Homo sapiens: one gene and its partners. The main gene of each other region encodes a partner of the protein of the gene in region 2 in a complex. Each region holds a gene or a part of one and is shown on either strand. Other genes may lie near its edges. The genes, in order: FLCN, LAMTOR4 and LAMTOR2.

What was found.
Region 1: LAMTOR4 (region 2) and FLCN share a complex: the UniProt entries of both Homo sapiens proteins name them as parts of the lysosomal folliculin complex.
Region 3: LAMTOR4 (region 2) and LAMTOR2 share a complex: the UniProt entries of both Homo sapiens proteins name them as parts of the ragulator complex.

The regions. Positions count from the first base shown.
Region 1 is NC_000017.11:17,226,990-17,234,168, forward strand, and holds part of FLCN (folliculin), read right to left. Parts: intron 5,913-7,179; 5' UTR 5,799-5,912; intron 4,894-5,798; 5' UTR 4,805-4,893; intron 2,842-4,804; exon of another isoform or gene 1,173-2,841; 5' UTR 1,149-1,172; coding exon 900-1,148; intron 1-899. UniProt on the Homo sapiens protein: Multi-functional protein, involved in both the cellular response to amino acid availability and in the regulation of glycolysis.
Region 2 is NC_000007.14:100,151,786-100,154,750, forward strand, and holds the end of LAMTOR4 (ragulator complex protein LAMTOR4), read left to right. Parts: intron 1-930; exon of another isoform or gene 931-972; intron 973-1,614; coding exon 1,615-1,732; intron 1,733-2,064; coding exon of another isoform or gene 2,065-2,081; coding exon 2,082-2,179; 3' UTR 2,180-2,418; downstream 2,419-2,965. UniProt on the Homo sapiens protein: As part of the Ragulator complex it is involved in amino acid sensing and activation of mTORC1, a signaling complex promoting cell growth in response to growth factors, energy levels, and amino acids.
Region 3 is NC_000001.11:156,050,267-156,057,781, reverse strand, and holds the start of LAMTOR2 (ragulator complex protein LAMTOR2), read right to left. Parts: upstream 3,001-7,515; 5' UTR 2,893-3,000; coding exon 2,825-2,892; intron 2,520-2,824; coding exon 2,357-2,519; intron 1-2,356. Other genes in the region: UBQLN4 (ubiquilin-4), read left to right, coding at 4,081-4,188, 5,925-6,076, 6,455-6,672, 7,229-7,491. UniProt on the Homo sapiens protein: As part of the Ragulator complex it is involved in amino acid sensing and activation of mTORC1, a signaling complex promoting cell growth in response to growth factors, energy levels, and amino acids.

The DNA of each region.
Region 1 (7,179 bases), on a different chromosome or scaffold from region 2:
CAAAACCAGCTCAAGGATGCCCCAGCAGCCTGGCGGTGCCCTCCTTCCCAGGTCTGAGGTGCTCCCCATCCCCCATTCCTTACAGGCAATTCCAGCAATGGATGCAGCTCTTACACGTCCTCTGCTTCTGCAGCAGAACCAAAAGAACAAGCTTGGGTTCCCGTTTGCACTGCAGTGGCAGGTCCAACACCCACCCCTGATTTTGGGCCCTGACCCAGGTCCTCCACAAAAACAAGTGGCCCACTGGGGAAAACTCACACTAATTCCCGAGAGTTCAAGAGCTGATGGAGTGACCCACCGAGAACACTGGGGGTCCTGGGAGCAGGAAACTCCACTGGGAGCACGGGACTTTGGGGACCCGCCTCCAGGACAGGCTGGAGTGTGTGAATACAAACATGAAGGCCACGGCAGGGAGGCAGAGTGGGTTAAAGAAGTTAACATAGGCTGGGTGTGGTGGCTCACGCCTGTAATCTCAGCACTTTGGGAGGCCGAGGCAGGTGGATCACCTGAGGTCACGAGTTCAAGACCAGCCTGCCCAACATGGTGAAACCCCATCTCTACTAAAAATACAAAATTAGCCAGGCGTGGTGGCAGGCAAGTGTAATTCGTTATTCGGGAGGCTGAGGCAGGAGAATTGCTTGAACCCGGGAGGCAGAGGTTGCAGTGAGCCATGATCACACCATGGCACTCCAGCCTGGGCAATAAGAGCAAAACTCTGTCTCAAAAAAAACAAAACAAAACAAAACAAAAGCTACAGTCAGGATGAGCGGAAAGAACTGAAGGGCCCCTGAGAAGCAGTCTGTGTCACCCCGGGAGGCCCCGTCCACTGCTCTCAGGTCCTCCTGTCCATCCCACACCTACTGCAGGGATCACAAAACCAAGACCCCAAAGACACTTGCCTCGCACATGTCCGACTTTTTGGGCCCCGGGCTGCTGGACTCGACGCTGGCCCCCTCTGCGGGGCTGTGCGCACGCATCCGACTGTTCATCTGAATGCCACCTTCCTCTTCTTCCGCCTGCTCACCCTGGCCAGGACTGTCCTCATTCCCATCCCCTTGAGGAAGTGGGGCGTGCAGCACCTCCGTGCAGAAGAGAGTGCGGGGGCCGTGGAGCTCGCAGAAGTGGCAGAGAGCCACGATGGCATTCATGGTGCCTTGGAGACTGCAACAGGCCTGCGTGGGACAGGGGACATGTCAGCTTGCCAATGCCTATTGACTCCATGAAACCTCCCCAGCCCCTCTGGAGCACAGGGAGCACCTGGGTGCCATGGACTTCCTGCCCAGGAGAGGCCACCCGCCAGTTCCCCAGCCCCCTGCCAGCACTGCTTTGCCCCAGTGCGAGAGGAACAGAGATAGGATCTTCCCATGGGAGTCACAGCAAATAGGGGAGGGGACAATGTGGACCAATGATAGCACAGCTGGAGCTGTGACAGAGCCACAGCCACAAAGCCAACGGCGCTGGAAAGGAATGTCCTCAAGTGACATGAACTGCAGCCAAACCTGGCAAACCCTGTGAGAACAAATAGATAAAAGGCCACAGGGAGAGGGTCCTCCACCCAATACATATCTGCTTGGCACCTGCTCCATGTGGGCCAAGGTGCTAGGCAACATGATACTGCCCTCATGCAGCTTACCTCCTGCAGGGGGTCGGCGGGGGACACAGGAAAACTGCTTCCTGCGAGAGGCCCACGCAGGGAATGACCAGAGGAGGCAGGAGCCTGGAAGGACTGGCTTACGGGGCCAAGCAAGAGTTGAAGGGCAGGGTGGGTGCTGTACTGTCTGAGGGGTGTGTAAGGTCCGGTGTCCAAAGAGCAGCAGCAGACAGGGTGGAGGCTGTAGGAAGCAGATCTTATAGCTCCTCCAGGCCACCGAAAGACCCTGGATGTGTTATCAGAGACTGGGGAGGCTTTGGGGGTTCTGATGAGACATGAGAAAATGTGAATTTCACTTGAATAGGTTCACTCATGCCCATGTGCAGAAAAGATGGCAGGGGGCCAGGGTGGAGGTGGGGAACAAGCTGAGGCACCCTGCTGACTGATCTGAGCAGGAAGGGACAGTGGCCCAGGCCAGGCAGGGTGAAGACGCACAGTGCGGGTGGGGTGCAGAGTGCGGAGCAGTGAGCAGGGGAGAAGGCCCAGTGAGTGCCTGCTGAGCCTTCACGGGGACGGGACACAGCAGCAGAGCCAAGCGCTGCGGTCGGGGCTGACGCATGGGACCTCCGTGGAGTGCAGCCCTTGTAGACTCAGAGGTGGAGAAGGGAGGACAGCTAGCCAACATGACCAAGCACAGGCAGTGAGGCCAGAGGGGAGCTCCAGAGTCACCCCAGTGACCAGGTAAACTGCTTTAGCAAGGTGGGACTGGAATGTCACATGGCCTTAAAAAGGAAGGAAACCCTGCCACAAGCTACGGCACGGCTGAAACTGAAGGACATTACACGAAATGATCTACACTGGTCACAAACGGATAAACACTGTAGGATTCCACTTAAATAGGAGGTACCTAGAGTCCTCAAAGCCATAGAGACAGAGAGCAGAATGGCAGCTGCCGGGGACTGGGAGGGAAGAGCGGGGCTCAGTTCTGGAGACGGAAGGTGGCGATGGCCGCACAGCACTGTGAACATACTTCATGCCACGGCACTGCACGCCGAACAGTGGTTCAAATGGCGCATTTTAGGTCATGTATTATTTCACCACAATCTTTTTAAAAGGGGGAGTGGTAACCTGCAGAACAATGATGAAGTCAAAGGTGACCTTAACACAGTTTCCGGTGGAGAAAAAGCTCACAGGAGTGGGTAGAGAGAGCCCTTTGGAGAGTTTCCGTGGCAGAGCCAGCAATGGGACACCTGGTGGGGACATGGAGTCAAGGAAAGCCCCAAGCTTGGCCACAGTACAGCTGCGATGCCGGCGGAACCATGTGAAGGCCAGGGGCAGCTGCAGGCACAAAGTCTGAGGGACACCAAGCACTCATTGCAGAGGGATGGCCGCGGCAGCATGAGGCAGTATGCCTTCCTAACGAATGCAGGAAAGCCAGAGAAGGCTTTAAAATGGGGGTGTGTCATGGGGTTCTCACTGGCAGAGAAGTTCTGGAAACGAGACCGCAAAAGCAAAGGTGCACAGTGGGGACAGCCACAGCCAACAGCCTGACATGTGACACAGCCTGACACATGCAGCCAGACCCACATTGTCCATACGGTGGCCACAGCTATGTGTGACAACTTAAATTTAAAATTTAAATTAGCTAGGAGAGGCCGGCACAGTGGCTCATGCCTGTAATCCCATGAGCCTGTAATCCCAACACTTTGGGAGGCTGAGGCGGGTGGATCACTTGAGGTCAGGAGTTTGAGACCAGCCTGGCCGACGCAGTGAAACCCTGCCTCTACTAAGAATACAAAGATTAGCCAGGTGTGGTGGTGTGCGCTGGTAGTCCCAGCTACTCAGGAGGCTGAGGCACGAGAATCACTTGAACCTGGGAGGCAAGGTTGCAGTGAGCCGAGATCGCACCACGGCACTCGAGCCTGGGCAACAAAGTGAGACTCAGTCTCAAAAAAAACCAAAAACAACAAAAACAAAACAAAATAAAACAAAAACCTTAGCTGGGCGTGTTGGCGGTCACCTATAAACCCAGCTACTTGGGAGGCTGAGGGAGGAGAATCACTTGAACCTGGGAGGCGGAGGTTGCAGTGAGCCAAGACTAGGTCACTGCACTCCAGCCTTTATGACAGGGCGAGACTCCATCTCAAAAAAAAAAAAAAAAAAGTAGCCTGGAGTGGTGGCGCACGCTTGTAGTCCCAACTACTTGGGAGGCCTAGGCAGGAGAATCGCTCGAACCTGGGAGGTGGAGGTTGCAGTGAGCTGAGATCGTACTACTACATTCCAGCCTGGGTGACAGAGTGAGTGAGACTTCGTCTCGAAAAAATTAAATAAATAGGCTGAGTGCGGTTGTTCATGCCTGTAATCCCAGCACTTTGGGAGGCCGAGGTGGGCAGATCACTTGAGGTCAGGAGTTCAAGACCAGCCTGGCCAACATGGCAAAACCCCATTTCTACTACAAGTACAAAAAAAATTAGCCAGGCATGGTGGCGCACACCTGTAGTCCCAGCTACTCAAGAGGCTGAGGCGGGAGAATTGCTTGAACCTAGGAGGCGAAGGTTGCAGTGAGCCAAGACTGCGCAACTGCAGTCCAGCCTGGGCGACAGAGAGACTCCGTCTCAAAATAAATAATGAATTAATTAATTAATATATTAGCTAGGACAAAAGCTCAGCCCTTCTGTCTCACCGGCCATGTCCTGAGTGTTTGCTAGGCACACACGACTCACGCCACCCCTCTGAATAGCCCAGGTCACAGAATATTTCTGCCTTCCCAGAAAGCCCCATTGCTTTCTGGGTGTGGCTGGCAGGGAATGGAGGGCTGGTGCTCAGTAGGTGCACTCCGAGAGGGAGGCAGACAGGCAGCGGGAGAGGAAACAGAGTTTCAATAAAGGGCCCAAGTCAGACTTGCTTGGGACGATGAAGAATCATGTAAGTTTCTGAATGTTTGACTGAGTAGTGGACACTGGCCAGGACCCAAAGCCTCTTCTCTTCTGGGGAGCCCCCACCCCTGTTACGGATCCAAAAGTCAGACGTTCTGTCTTCGCTCCTGACAGGCAGGCTGTGAACACAAACAAGGCATGGCCTGCCAAAGCCGCTAACTCTAGGAAGAAGCAAAGGACGATGTGCATGGTGGTGGGGGGTGCTGCAGCCAGCCTCTCTGCCGGCGGCCCATGCCTGGAACTGCTTCTTCAGCATGCCTGCGAATGCACCACCCACCTGACGTTTCTGCAGTTGGCTGCTTAGCTGCACGAGCTGCTCCGGCACCTGTCCTCCTGCTGAGATACGGCTGAGCACGAGTGGTCACACTGGGAATGGCAGAGGCAGACAGAAAACAGACATTTGAAGAGAACCTTAGCTGGGCTGGCAGTGAGGCAGGTGTGGGAGTCAGAGAGGGAGACCCTGGGTGTGGCTGGCAGGGAATGGAGGGCTAGTGCTCTGTAGGTGCACTCCGAGAGGGAGGCAGACAGGCAGCGGGAGAGGAAACATACGCATTTAACAGATGGCAGAACTTCTAGCTGGAAGGCCCTGAGAACTCAGCAAAGATGCAGGCTGCAGGACAGGAGAGGGCAGGGCTGGGGACAAAGGTCAGGAATGCTCCACACACCGTCACCTGGCTCACTCCTCACCACTCGGCCTCCACTTGCTCCCCTGCTCAGAGTACCCCTTGCCAGCCCACCAGAAGAGCTCCCCTCCACCCCGACACCCTCCCCTGCCCTGCTTTGAGTCGTAGCGCTCCTCATCGCAGAACTGCGCCTCCAAAGTGCCTTCCTGACACACAGGAAGCGCCACATTCACGTGTTAGATAAATGAGAGGACTGAGAAGTCGCCCTTGGAAAGATGACAGCTGTTGCCAAGAAAGGGGCGGAATCTAGGGGCGGCAGAGGTTCAGGAGCCACAGCTGTGGGGAAGGCCGGAGCCAGAGTCTAGTGGCACAGGAACCAAACAGACAGTTTCAATAAAGGGCCCACAGGGTTCACTATGATGAGTGGCTTAAAAATCTACTGCTCAACAGGAGATGGGGCGACCACTGATGGAGTAAGGGGTAGCAGGACCCAAAGGAAAGGTAAAGGCATTAAACTGCGAAAAGGAAGGCCACGCCTTTCTCTGAGAGGCATCAGGGGAAGAGAAATAAGGTTCCTTCTAGCAAGACATGCACAGGACAGCAAGCCTGGGCCAAGTCTCAGCCCACCTGCAGAGCACCCACACTAACCTGACACTCAGCAGAATCACGCTTCCACCGTCCACACCAGACCACCACACACGAGGCTGCTGCCAAATGGGTCAGGCATGGTGGTGGCAGACACCCTTGAAGACCTGGCGTTTTCTAGGTAAGAGAAAAAAAAAATTAGAGCTATTTCTAAGATTAGAGGCCTTCGTAGCATGAAAAATAATGGGAGCAGCTTACAGCCAGTCTCAAATAAGAACGTGTCTGATGAGGATGTAGACACTCCCCAGGGTTCTGAATGGCTTAGCAGGCCTCTGACCTTCTCAGCAGGAGCTGACATTTTAGCTGAACTCTTGCACCTCTGAGGCACTCTAAACCAGTATTTGATCAAGGATCTCTGTATTTATTTTTTTAGAGATAGGGTCTTGAGGCCAGCTCAGTGGCTCATGCTTGTAATCCCAACACTTCGGGAGGCCAAGGCAGGAGGATTGCTTCAGCCCATGAGTTTGAGACCAGCCTGGGTAACACAGTGAGACCCTGTCTCTACAAAAAATTTTTAAAAAAAATTAGCCAGGCCGGGCGCGGTGGCTCACGCCTGTAACCCCGGCACTTTGGGAGGCCGAGGTGGGCAGATCAGGAGGTCAGGAGATCGAGACCATCCTGGCTAACATGGTGAAACCCCATCTCTACTAAAAATACAAAAAAAATCAGCCAGGCATGGTGACAGGCGCCTATAGTCCCAGCTACTCGGGAGGCTGAGGCAGGAGAATGGCGTGAACCTGAGACGCAGAGCTTGCAGTGAGCCAAGATCACGGCACTGCACTCCAGCCTGGGCGACACAGCAAGACTCCATCTCAAAAAAAAAAAAAAAAAAAAAAATTAGCCGGGCATGCCTCTAGTCCAAGTTACTTGGGGGACTAAGTTGGGAGGTCACTTCAGCCTGGGAGGTCAAGGCTGCAAGTTCCCATCTTTCCTTTTTTTTTTTTTTTTTTTTTTTTGAGACCAAGTTTCACTCTTGTCACCCAGGCTGGAGTGCAATGGCGTGATCTCAGCTCACTGCAACCTCTGCCTCCCAGGTTTAAGTGATTCTCCTGCCTCAGCCTCCTGAGTAGCTGGGATTACAGGTGTCTGCCACCACACCTGGCTAATTTTTGTATTTTAGTAGAGACAGAGTTTCACCATGTTGGCCAGGCTGGTCTCGAACTCCCGACCTCAGGTGATCCACCTACCTCAGCCTCCCTAAGTGCTAGGATTACAGGCATGAGCCACTGCATCCAGCCAAGTCCCCATCTTTCTTACTCTTGGTTATAAGGGGGTGCTCTGGCAGCATCTACATCACACCAACTTACTTTTCAGGCCATAGGCCTGGCAGTTTCCTTCTCAAGCAGGAGAGGGAAACCAGAGGCAACGCTGACAAGCCACTTCC
Region 2 (2,965 bases):
TCCTGGGCCCAAGCAATCCTCCCGCCTCAGCATCCCAAGTAACTAGAACTACAGGCAAGCACCACCACGCCCAGCCATTAAAAAAAAAAAAAAAATGTGTGGAGACAGGGGCCTTGCTATGTTGCCCAGGCTGGTCTCAAACTCCTGGCCTCCAGCATTCCTCCTGCCTTGGCCTCCCAGAGTGCTGAGATTACAGGCATGAGCTCCTGTGCTTGGCTGGAAGAAGTTATTTTAAAGGAGGAATCAGTATATCTTGCTAATGACTAGAAATAGGTAATAGAGGAAATATTTCTGTAGCCAGAACTCTAAAGCCTGGAAGAGTGATGATGCCTTAAGAAACATGTCCCTGCGTGGTGGCTCACGCCTTTAATCCCAGCACTTTGGGAGGCTGAGGTGGGTGGATCACTTGAGGTTGGGAGTTCGAGAGCACCCTAGCCAACATGGTGAAACCTCATCTCTACAAAAAATTAGCCTGGCATGGAAGCACATGCATGTAATCCCAGCTTCTTGGGAGGTTGAGGCAGGAGAATTGCTTGAACCCAGGAGGCAGAGGTTGCAGTGAGCCAAGATTGCACCACTGTACTCCAGCCTGGGTGATAGAGTGAGACTCTGTCTCAAAAAACAAACAAACAAACAGGAAATCAAAAAAAGAAGTGGATTGGGAAGGAGGTGGATAAGGATAAGGTGAAATTTGATGGCCCAACTTTAGACATTGAGTTTGATATAAAATAGCAGTTAATATATATTGCTAGTTCAGCAAAAGGAACTAAATCTAGTGGAGGCCCATATCAAGGAAGAGGGAAGAGGAAGTTGAGACAGTCACCAGAAAAGAGGAAGCCCAAGCCACTGTCCCATCACTTACTCTAGGGGTCAACAGAGGGAGGTATTCAAGGACAAAGGGAATGTTTATGTTTGAGATTCTGCAAACAGGGCAGCAAGTGTGAAGACAGAAAAAGATGGAGCCATTAACAGGTAAGTGGTGGGCAGGCATTCATTTTGGAGAATGTGGCTTTATCAAATAGGCAGGGACATGGGAGAAATCCAGTTTTATGGGGTTAGAAAAGCATGGTCAATAAAGAGATGGATGGCCAGGCACGGTGGCTCACGTCTGTAATCCCAGCATTTTGGGAGGCTGAGGCGGGCAGATCATTTGAGGTCAAGAGTTTGAGACCAGCTGATTAATATGGTAAAACCCCGTCTCTACTAAAAATATAAAAAATTAGCTAGATGTGGTGGTGCTGGTACGTGCCTGTAATCTCAGCTATTTGGGAGGCTGAGGCAGGAGAATCACTTGAACCCGAGAGGCCGAGATTGCACCACTGCACTACAGCCTGGGTGACAGAACGAGATTCCGTCTCAAAAAAGAAAAAAAAAAAAAAGATGGATAAGTTACTGCTCATCCGGGGAAGGCCAGTATTATGGGAAACAGGATGGCATCCGGAGGGTGACAACATTATAGGGGGAGATTTCAGGTTGTTTTTTTCCAAAGCTGAGGGTACTGGCAAGCCAAGGGGGAGAGGGTCTAAGTGTGAGAACCAAGGGGACTGTGCCTGGAATTCCTTCCTGAGCCTGTGCCGTAATGCCCGCCCCTCTCCCTCCTCCGTCTGCATGCAGTCATCTGGGGACCTGGAGAATGATGAGCAGGCAGCCAGTGCCATCTCTGAGCTGGTCAGCACAGCCTGCGGTTTCCGGCTGCACCGCGGCATGAATGTGCCCTTCAAGCGCCTGTCTGGTGAGCCCCTGCCCCTGCCCTTGGTGGTGGTACTGGGAGCGGGGGGCTACTTCCAGGGGCTTCTCGGCTTCTCTTCTTCCAGCCTCCTACCATCTCCTGGGGTCTCTGGTCTGGCCACTTTCCTCCCTTTGGGACTCCCTGGTATCAGAATTGTGAATGAGAAGGCAAGAGAAAGGAGATCTAGCAGAGGCCACTCATCTTCAAATCTCTGAGCCTGGAACTATAGAACTTCTTTGGCTTTGATCCCAGCCAATGTGCGTGTGGCCCCGCCCCATGGAGTCTGTTGCACCCACTAACTCTGTGCTCCCTTCCCTCTCCTGGGGCGGGGGAAGGTGTGTCTCTCCTCCAGTGGTCTTTGGAGAACACACACTGCTGGTGACGGTGTCAGGACAGAGGGTGTTTGTGGTGAAGAGGCAGAACCGAGGTCGGGAGCCCATTGATGTCTGAGCCTGCCGGAGGGCGAGGGTCGGAGAAGCGGATTGGGTCCTGGGCCTCTGTGATGAGGCAGGCACACCTGTCGGTCTTGGCTTGCTGCTAGAACTAGGGCCTTCTGCTCGCCCACCTCCCACCCCTACCTGGACGGGCCCAGGCTTGGGGACTCTGAGCTGTGTTAAGGAGAACAAGGGCAAGGAGACCTCCCTTTGTGCTCCCTCACTCCCTAATAAACATGAGTCTGATGTTCTCCAGCCCAGGGACATGTGTGTTTAGTGTTGGAATGGTTACACCCCATGTCTGTCTTCCACCTTCTGGGGAGAAAGTCATGCACCTTAGCCCAAGTTGGGTGCGGCAGGGCCACCTCTGTGTGCTATAAAACTGGGAAGCAGAAAAAGCTGGAGGGGAAGGGAGTCACCCTGAGCCCTGGCGACCTCTGCTCTTCCCATCAGTACACAAACTAGTCATCCTTCTCCCTCCTGAACAGGCATTTAATAGTCTTATTTCAGTTGGAAGCAATAGTTGGAAAATAAGTTACAGGAACAGACCAAAAAAAAAAAAATTAAAGTGCTTCAGGCTGCAAACGTAAACATAAGGGGCAGGAGGCTACCTGGCCCTGTCCCCAACCCCTGAGACAGGAAGGTCACTGTCAGGGGCCCTTAGCCATCACCACCCTCTAATCTCAGCCCTGCGGGAGGGAGGGAGGGAATGTCAGAGGTGGGAAAGAACTCAACGGGAATGAGGAAGAGACTTTGTAAACTCAGAACCAGGGTAAAGGGCCGGGGACAAGGGAGCTCTGGG
Region 3 (7,515 bases), on a different chromosome or scaffold from region 2:
CACCTACTAACCATGTTACTCTGGGAAACTTAGTCTCTCAGAAATTCAGTTTTTCTTTCTGTAATCCCTACCTCATCCCAGTTGGTGAGGGTGCTAATACCATGAAATTTCATATCTGCCAACAGTTGTCCAAATGAGTGATGTTATTACTGTGAGCTCACCCCACAGACACTGAGAGGGGCATGGGAGTGGTAACCCAACTGGTATTTCTCCTCTTTTCCCATGGTAATGTTTTTCAAATTGCAGATTTGACCCCACAGTTAGGAGATAAATTAAGAAGGTTGATCAGCATTAAAAACCAAAAAAGAAAAAATGAAGTATATTACATGTAGTAGGAAAAGTATTGTTTCATGACTTTTGTTTTAGTGGGTCTATGTGTGTGTTGAGCTCTGACTTAAAATGTCTTTCTTAAAAAATTTTTTCCTATTTATTTATTTATTAAAATTTTTTTTGTAGAGATGGGGTCTTATTAGGTCACCAAGGCTGGTCTTGAACTCCTGGCCTCAGATAATCCTCCAGCCTCAGCCTCCCAAAGTGTTGGGATTACAGGAGTGAGGCACTGTGCTCAGCCTTAAAATGTATTTCTTTTTTTTTTTTTTTTTTTGAGATGGAGTCTTGCTCTGTTGCCCAGGCTGGAGTGCAGTGGCGTGATCTCGGCTCACTGCAACCACTGCCTCCTGGGTTCAAGTGATTCTCCTGCCTCAGCCTCCTGAGTGGCTGGGATTACAGGCACGCACCACCATGCCCAGCTAATTTTTGTATTTTTAGTAGAGATGGGGTTTCACCATGTTGGCCAGGCTGGTCTTGAACACCTGACTTTGTGATCCGCCCGCCTCGGCCTCCCAAAGTGCTGGGATTACAGGCATGAGCCACCATGCCCAGCCCCTTAAAATGTATTTCTTATGGCTGGGTTGTGGTCAAAACGTTTGAAAGCTATTGCCCTATAGCACCAGCTCTAGGCATCCAGTAGGAGTCATATGTTGAACTAAAAATGGCATTGGTTGTGCAGGGGGTAGGGGAGAGTAGGCAGTTGAGTTACAATGAAGATCCTTCCTGGAGAGTTCACCTTCTGGCCAATTTGAAAAAAACAAAAGTAAGTTCAGCAAACTTTTACTAGGTATTTATTGTATGCCAGGAACCAAGCACTGCACTCCCTGCCTCTCTGACCTCATCTCCTACTACCCTCCTCCATCTCACGTAACTCCAGCCATACCAACCAACCCTGTTGATCCTTGAGCAGGCATAATTCTGCCTCAGGGCCTTGGTACTTGCTGTTCTGTCCAAAATATTCTTCCCTCAGATAACCACATGGCTTGTCCCCCACCTTTCTTCAGATCATTGATCAAATGTCACCTTTTCAGTGAGACTGTCCCTGACACATACACCCAACAAACTCATACTCTTTCACTTCCCTGCTTTCTCTCCATTGCATTTTCAATACCTAATATATACTATATATTTTACTTATTTTAAAAAATGTGGCCAGGCACAGTGACTCACGCCTGTAATCCCAGCACTTTGGGAGGCCAACGTGGGTAGATCGCTTGAGCCAGGAGTTTGAGACCAGCCTGGGCAACATGGCAAAACCCAGTCTCTGGAAAAATGCAAAAATTAGCGAGGTGTGGTGGTGCATGTCTGTAGTCCCGGCTACTCAGGAGGCTGGGGCAGGAGGATCACCTGAGCCCAGGGAGGTCGAGGCTGCAGTGAGCCGTGATTGTATCACTGTGTAAGATTTATTAGGGCTGGGGGTTTTGTCTTTCTGTTTGCTATTTTTTCCCTAGTCCTGAGAATACTGCAAGGACCTAAATACTTGTCGACCGAACAGATACTAAGAAGTTCACAATCTAATGGTGACTTCCCCTTTCTGGACTTCATTTTCCTTTCTTTGAAAGCTTAAGGGGTTGGACTAGGGTCTGGAGACTGCCATGGTTCTGTGAGTCGGTGAAACTGGGATGACAACACTTTGTGTTTGCACGTCATTCTACTGTTTATACCCATTATTTCATCTGACCTTCACAACAACCCATGAGGGGAGCGGGGAGAGGGAAATTATTGTCTTCTCCTTAAACATGAGGTAAGGAAGCTGAGAGAGGTTAAGCGACTTACCCAAGGTTCCACAACTGATAAGTGGATGGCTGAGACCAGAACCCAAGTCAGACCTCTCAGGTCCAGGGATCCTTCCTCACCACCACTTGATGAATAGGGTCCTGCCTATTACAAATGCTGCTGCAGACCAACTCTTAGTAATCTTCCGGAGATCCTGTCCCTGCCCCTCCAACCATCCAGGATGGGGTCCAGGTCGCCCCCTTGGGATCCCCTTTGGGGGACAGGGGAAGTCTGGCTCCCCTCTCCATACCATGCAGTCCATGAGGATGAATTTGAGATTGTCTTCATTAAACGCTTGGTTCCCGTTCCGGTCGTAGGCGGCCCAGATGTTACTGGCTATGGCAGCGGTGACCCGGGCGTCAGTGTCCCCGTAACCAGAGTAGGCCAGCAGTGATCCCTCGTTATTCAGCAGCCTGGTGAGGGGCGGGGAGGGATAGCGATGTGCTCAGAGCGGGGAGTAAAACGTCTGGGTTTCCATCCCAAGTCCCACCAAGGGCACATCCAGCAAGGCTCTGGCCTGAGCGTGTCCCGGAACATGCCCTAAGCACCCAGCACACCGGCTTCCCTTTTCGACAGGGGACCTCCCGGCCGGTATCCCCAGCCGCTGCCCCCTCTGCCGCTTCCTCCCTTCCTGGTGATCCTTCCCCACCCCTCCCTCAGGGAGCCGCGCGCCGCCCCACTGCAGCGCTCGCCGCTCGGGTCCGTGGTCTGCACTCACAGGGTGCTCTGGACGCCTCCAGTGTTGGCTTGGCTTAGCACCTGGGTCAAAGCCTTGGGGCGCAGCATGCCTACGGTTCCTAACCCTGGGCTTTTGCACCCAGATCTCCGAGGTGCCTCCCGCGGGCCGCTGCCCGCTGCTTCCCGTAGTCCCGTTGGCCTGCTCCGGGACGCCCTGGGAGTTGTAGTTTCTTCGCCTGGCTATTGTGGTTCCGACTCAACCCCGCCCCACCGCGGGGGGCTCTGGGAATCGTAGTTCTTTGTGGCCTCGCGAGGCACCCTGGGAATTATAGTTCGCCTTTCCAAGCCGACCACGCGGTTGTTGGGGGGCGGAAAAGAACGGGAGTGAAAGGACAGCAGCAGCGCTGGAAGGACATTTAACCCCTTCGGGGAGAAAGGAATCAACGTGTCCGCTTGGCAGTCCACGATTCAATAATTATACTACATCCTCATATTTGTCAGGCACGCCTTTGGTTACTTTCAAAACAGTTTTCTCCGTTATGCACAATTCTGTGCGATGAGGCGAGAGGTACTATTATTATTATCTTGAGGAAACCAAGGCTCTGAAAGGCCACGCAGCCAAAACCCAGCTCCCTGGAACCGTTCTTAATAGACCATTCAGGCCGCGACCCTCGGGGCTATAGGGTCAGTCCCAGAGCTGAGAACCTAGGTGGACGTGCTTGGTGGGAAAACCCAACCTCCAAGTCGGGAAAGTCCCCTGGCCTGGAAGGGACTTGGGCTTCCAAGAAAGACCAAGTTATCACAGGGAACGGAGATAAAGCGGCGACACAGAAAGTCCTTTGTCCCGGAGCCGAGTTAGCCGCGGAGGGGGCGGGGAGGCTTTGGGCTGGAGGGGACCGCGGCACGGCTCGGGCGGGCAGCGTTGGGTCGCGGTCTCCCGGGGCAGTCCGCCCTCGCCCCCGCAATGAAGGGCACGCCCCTTCCCCCTCCCAGAGGCCCCCCAGGGGCCCCCGCCTGGCGAGACCCTGGCCGGGCTCCGGACCTGGGGCTTGGCCCTGGGCGGACCCCGCTGCAGTGGCCCCCCCGGTCCGCCCGGGGCGCTGTGGCTGCGGCTGGTCCGGAGGGGGCGGTGAAGCCTCGGGGAGGGGAGGGGAGGAGAGAGGAGGGGAGGGGAGGGGAGGGGAGAGGTGGAGAGAGGGGAGTGTTGGAGGCGCAGAAGCCGAGCCGGGCCGGCCGGGCGGGCGGGGAGGAGGAGGAGCCGGGCGGGCTGGCGGGCGGCCGGGTGGCGGCGGCGGCATGGCGGAGCCGAGCGGGGCCGAGACGAGGCCCCCCATTCGGGTCACCGTCAAGACCCCCAAGGACAAGGAGGAAATTGTGATCTGCGATCGAGCCTCGGTCAAGGAGGTAGTACAGCAGGCGGGGGGCGGGGGGAGCGCGGAGGAGGGGTCTGCGAAGAGATGGGGGGCCTCTCTGACGGTCCGGCGTCCCGGAGGGCCCCGGAGAGGAGGGCGGGGGCCGGCTGGGACTCCGAGGAGCTGAAGGCAAGGAGAGGCGGGTAGGGGGCGCCCTGCGAGGGGAGATCTGGGGGAGCGTGGCGCGTGTTGAGGGGCGGGTTTTGCCTTGTGGCCTGGGGGCGTGGTGGAGAGTGAGGAGGGGACACCTTGCACCGGGAAGGGGGAAGGACCCTGGGTTTGAGGGGAGTGTGCCGGAGTGGGGGCCCGGGCTAGGTGCTAACTGAGAGAACGGGCCGGGGGCAGGCGGAGAGCGCCGGCGCCTACTCTGTGCCTCAGAGAACGCCCAGTGTTCTCTGAGCGACGGGGCTGTCGGGGGAGGATTTCCCTGTGCCCAGATCCTTCCCACTCTTTCAAATCGACGTGGTTACATTTGGTTCTCAGCTCTTCTGAGATTTACACGGTGTGCAGTAGGTGCTCAATAAAATCTTGTTGAATGACGGACTGTTGCCTGTGTTCGCCACCCCCTGTGGCCGCTCCATAATTTCACATAGGCGGGGCTTAAGATAGGCCATCTGGTTGGAAGAGAGGGATCTGGAAGCAGCCTCTGCTTAACAAGTGCACTGTTTTTACTTAAAGTGTGTGTTGTGTTTTGTTTTGTGTTGTGTTTTGGAGGGGCTGGTAGAATTTGGGAAGTCTAACTCCATCCTTGCTCCCTCCCTAACCACATAGAATTACTAAATTTCAGAATTTAAATACTGTATGTTCCCTACAAAGCTGAATTTGAAAACGGCTCTCATTGAGAGGCAGTGTGTTTAGTTAAGAGCCTGGACTTTGGTGTCAAGACCTGAGTTCTGGTCTGCCTGGGGCAAGTTACCTTACCTCGCTGATCCTCAGTTTTCTCATCTTTAAAATGGAGATACGGCTGGGCGTGGTGGCTCACACCTGTAATCCCAGCACTTTGGGAGTCTGAGTCTGGTGGATCACCTGAGGTCACGAGTTCAAGACCAGCCTGGCCAACATGGTGAAACCCCGTCTCTACTAAAAATACAATTAGCCAGGCATGGTGGTGTGTGCCTGTAGTCCCAGACACTCGGGAGGCTGAAGCAGGAGAATCACTTGAACCCGGAAGATGGAGGTTACAGTGAGCCAAGATCGCACCTCTGCACTCCAGCCTGGGCTACAGAGCGAGACTCCATCTCAAGATAAAAATAATAATAAAATGAAAATAACAATATACTATATCTTTAACTGGTGAATAGGTAGTGCTCAATAACTGGCATCTATTTGTTGTAGTTGTTAAGAGAATACTGGGAATAGAGAGGAGAGAAAATTGGGTCTCAGAAGGCTGAAGGTCCAAAGCTGTTGAAGGAGTTGGGATGGGAGGCTGCTCTGCCTTACAGAGAACTAGGTGGAGGGACTGAAGCTGGGAGGCAGATAGCAGCAGGGGCTTTCTAGGGTGGGAGACTCTGGGATGGAGCTGAGAGAAGAGCCTCTCACTGGTTCATCTCCTTTGTTAAGAAAGGAGATGCTTATTGCAGCTGGAGGAATGGCGTCGAGACTACAGAAAGGACTTCCCATGACTAGAGATGAGAGCAAGAGAGTGCAGAAGGTGTTGAAAAAGAGTCAGGGTCCCTGGTAGGGGGAGTCCAGGCAGCCTCCACAGTGACCTCTGCCTCTTGATCACAGTTCAAAGAGGAAATCTCCCGGAGGTTTAAGGCTCAGCAGGATCAGCTGGTCCTGATCTTCGCAGGCAAGATCCTCAAGGATGGGGACACACTGAACCAGCACGGAATCAAGGACGGGCTCACTGTCCATCTGGTCATCAAGACCCCTCAGAAGTAAGTTCAGGAGCAGAGCAGATCCAGCTTCTGATTGGGCCTCCCCATCTGATACTTTCTCACTCATTGCTTAACTGTACCCAGAGGGCCTAAGCTGAGGCCCAGGCAGGTAGCTCCTGGATGAATATGATCTCATCTCTAGGGGAAGGGAACCTGATTTACCATTCCCAGAATGCCCTGAAGACAGATAATACTAGCTCCTTTCTCCCTCTGCTGGTTTACTGACTGCCCTCCCGCCATCACCCCACTCCAGCCTCAGGACTGCTCAGGAGGGGTCTTGGGTTAAAATAGTTGTCCCATAGCAAGCACAGAGATTGTCACGGTACCTTCCCTCTTCTAGTGCTCACTCCAACAGGATTCTCCTTTCTCTGTCCTCAGGGCTCAAGATCCAGCTGCTGCCACTGCTTCTTCCCCCTCCACACCTGACCCTGCCTCAGCACCCTCCACCACGCCTGCTTCACCCGCCACCCCTGCCCAGCCCTCCACCTCTGGCAGTGCCTCTTCAGATGCTGGCAGTGGAAGCCGGAGGAGCAGTGGTGGGGGGCCCTCTCCGGGGGCTGGGGAGGGATCCCCCAGTGCTACTGCGTCCATACTCTGTAAGCCCTCAGAGAGGAGAGCACAATCTTGTTTGGGGTTGGGGAGTTGGGGAAAGCCAAGAGGAGGGAGAAACAGGAGTTCCTGCTCCTGGTCTGATGGGGATAGGGGACCCCATGACAGAGTTCCAGACATTGATACTTGAGTCAAGCTGGGGAAGAAACTAGTCTGAGGAGTTCTCAGAGGTGGGGACCATGGCTAAGGGTTAGGAGTGAGGGGAGAAATGGGGTTGGGGATGTGGGGAACCCTAGGTAAAGGGAATGGAAGACCCTGTGAGTCTGGGGAAAAGTTGGATCCAGCAGTAGCCACATGGGCCACTCATTCAACAGACCATTGCTGGTTGCCTTCTCTCTGCTCAGTTCTATGTTTGGCACAGCCTCAGTCTAGTAGGCTCACATTTTTTTGCCAGCAGTGGATCAGGGCCGGGCTGTGGGAATGACAGGAAGAGGGACATGTGAGAAGCATTTGGGGCGTGTCCTGGAGATCTGAATTCAGTGGCTCTGGCTAAGTGAGGACACTGTTCTTGTGGCAGACTGTGACCCTGCCCCCTTCCCACAGCTGGCTTTGGGGGCATCCTGGGGCTGGGCAGCCTAGGCCTGGGCTCTGCCAACTTCATGGAGCTGCAGCAGCAGATGCAGCGGCAGCTGATGTCCAATCCTGAGATGCTGTCACAGATCATGGAGAACCCCCTGGTCCAGGATATGATGTCTAACCCTGATCTGATGCGTCACATGATTATGGCCAACCCCCAGATGCAGCAGTTGATGGAGCGGAACCCTGAGATCAGCCACATGCTCAATAACCCTGAACTCATGAGGCAGGTGAGTATGAGAGGGCTGGAGAGC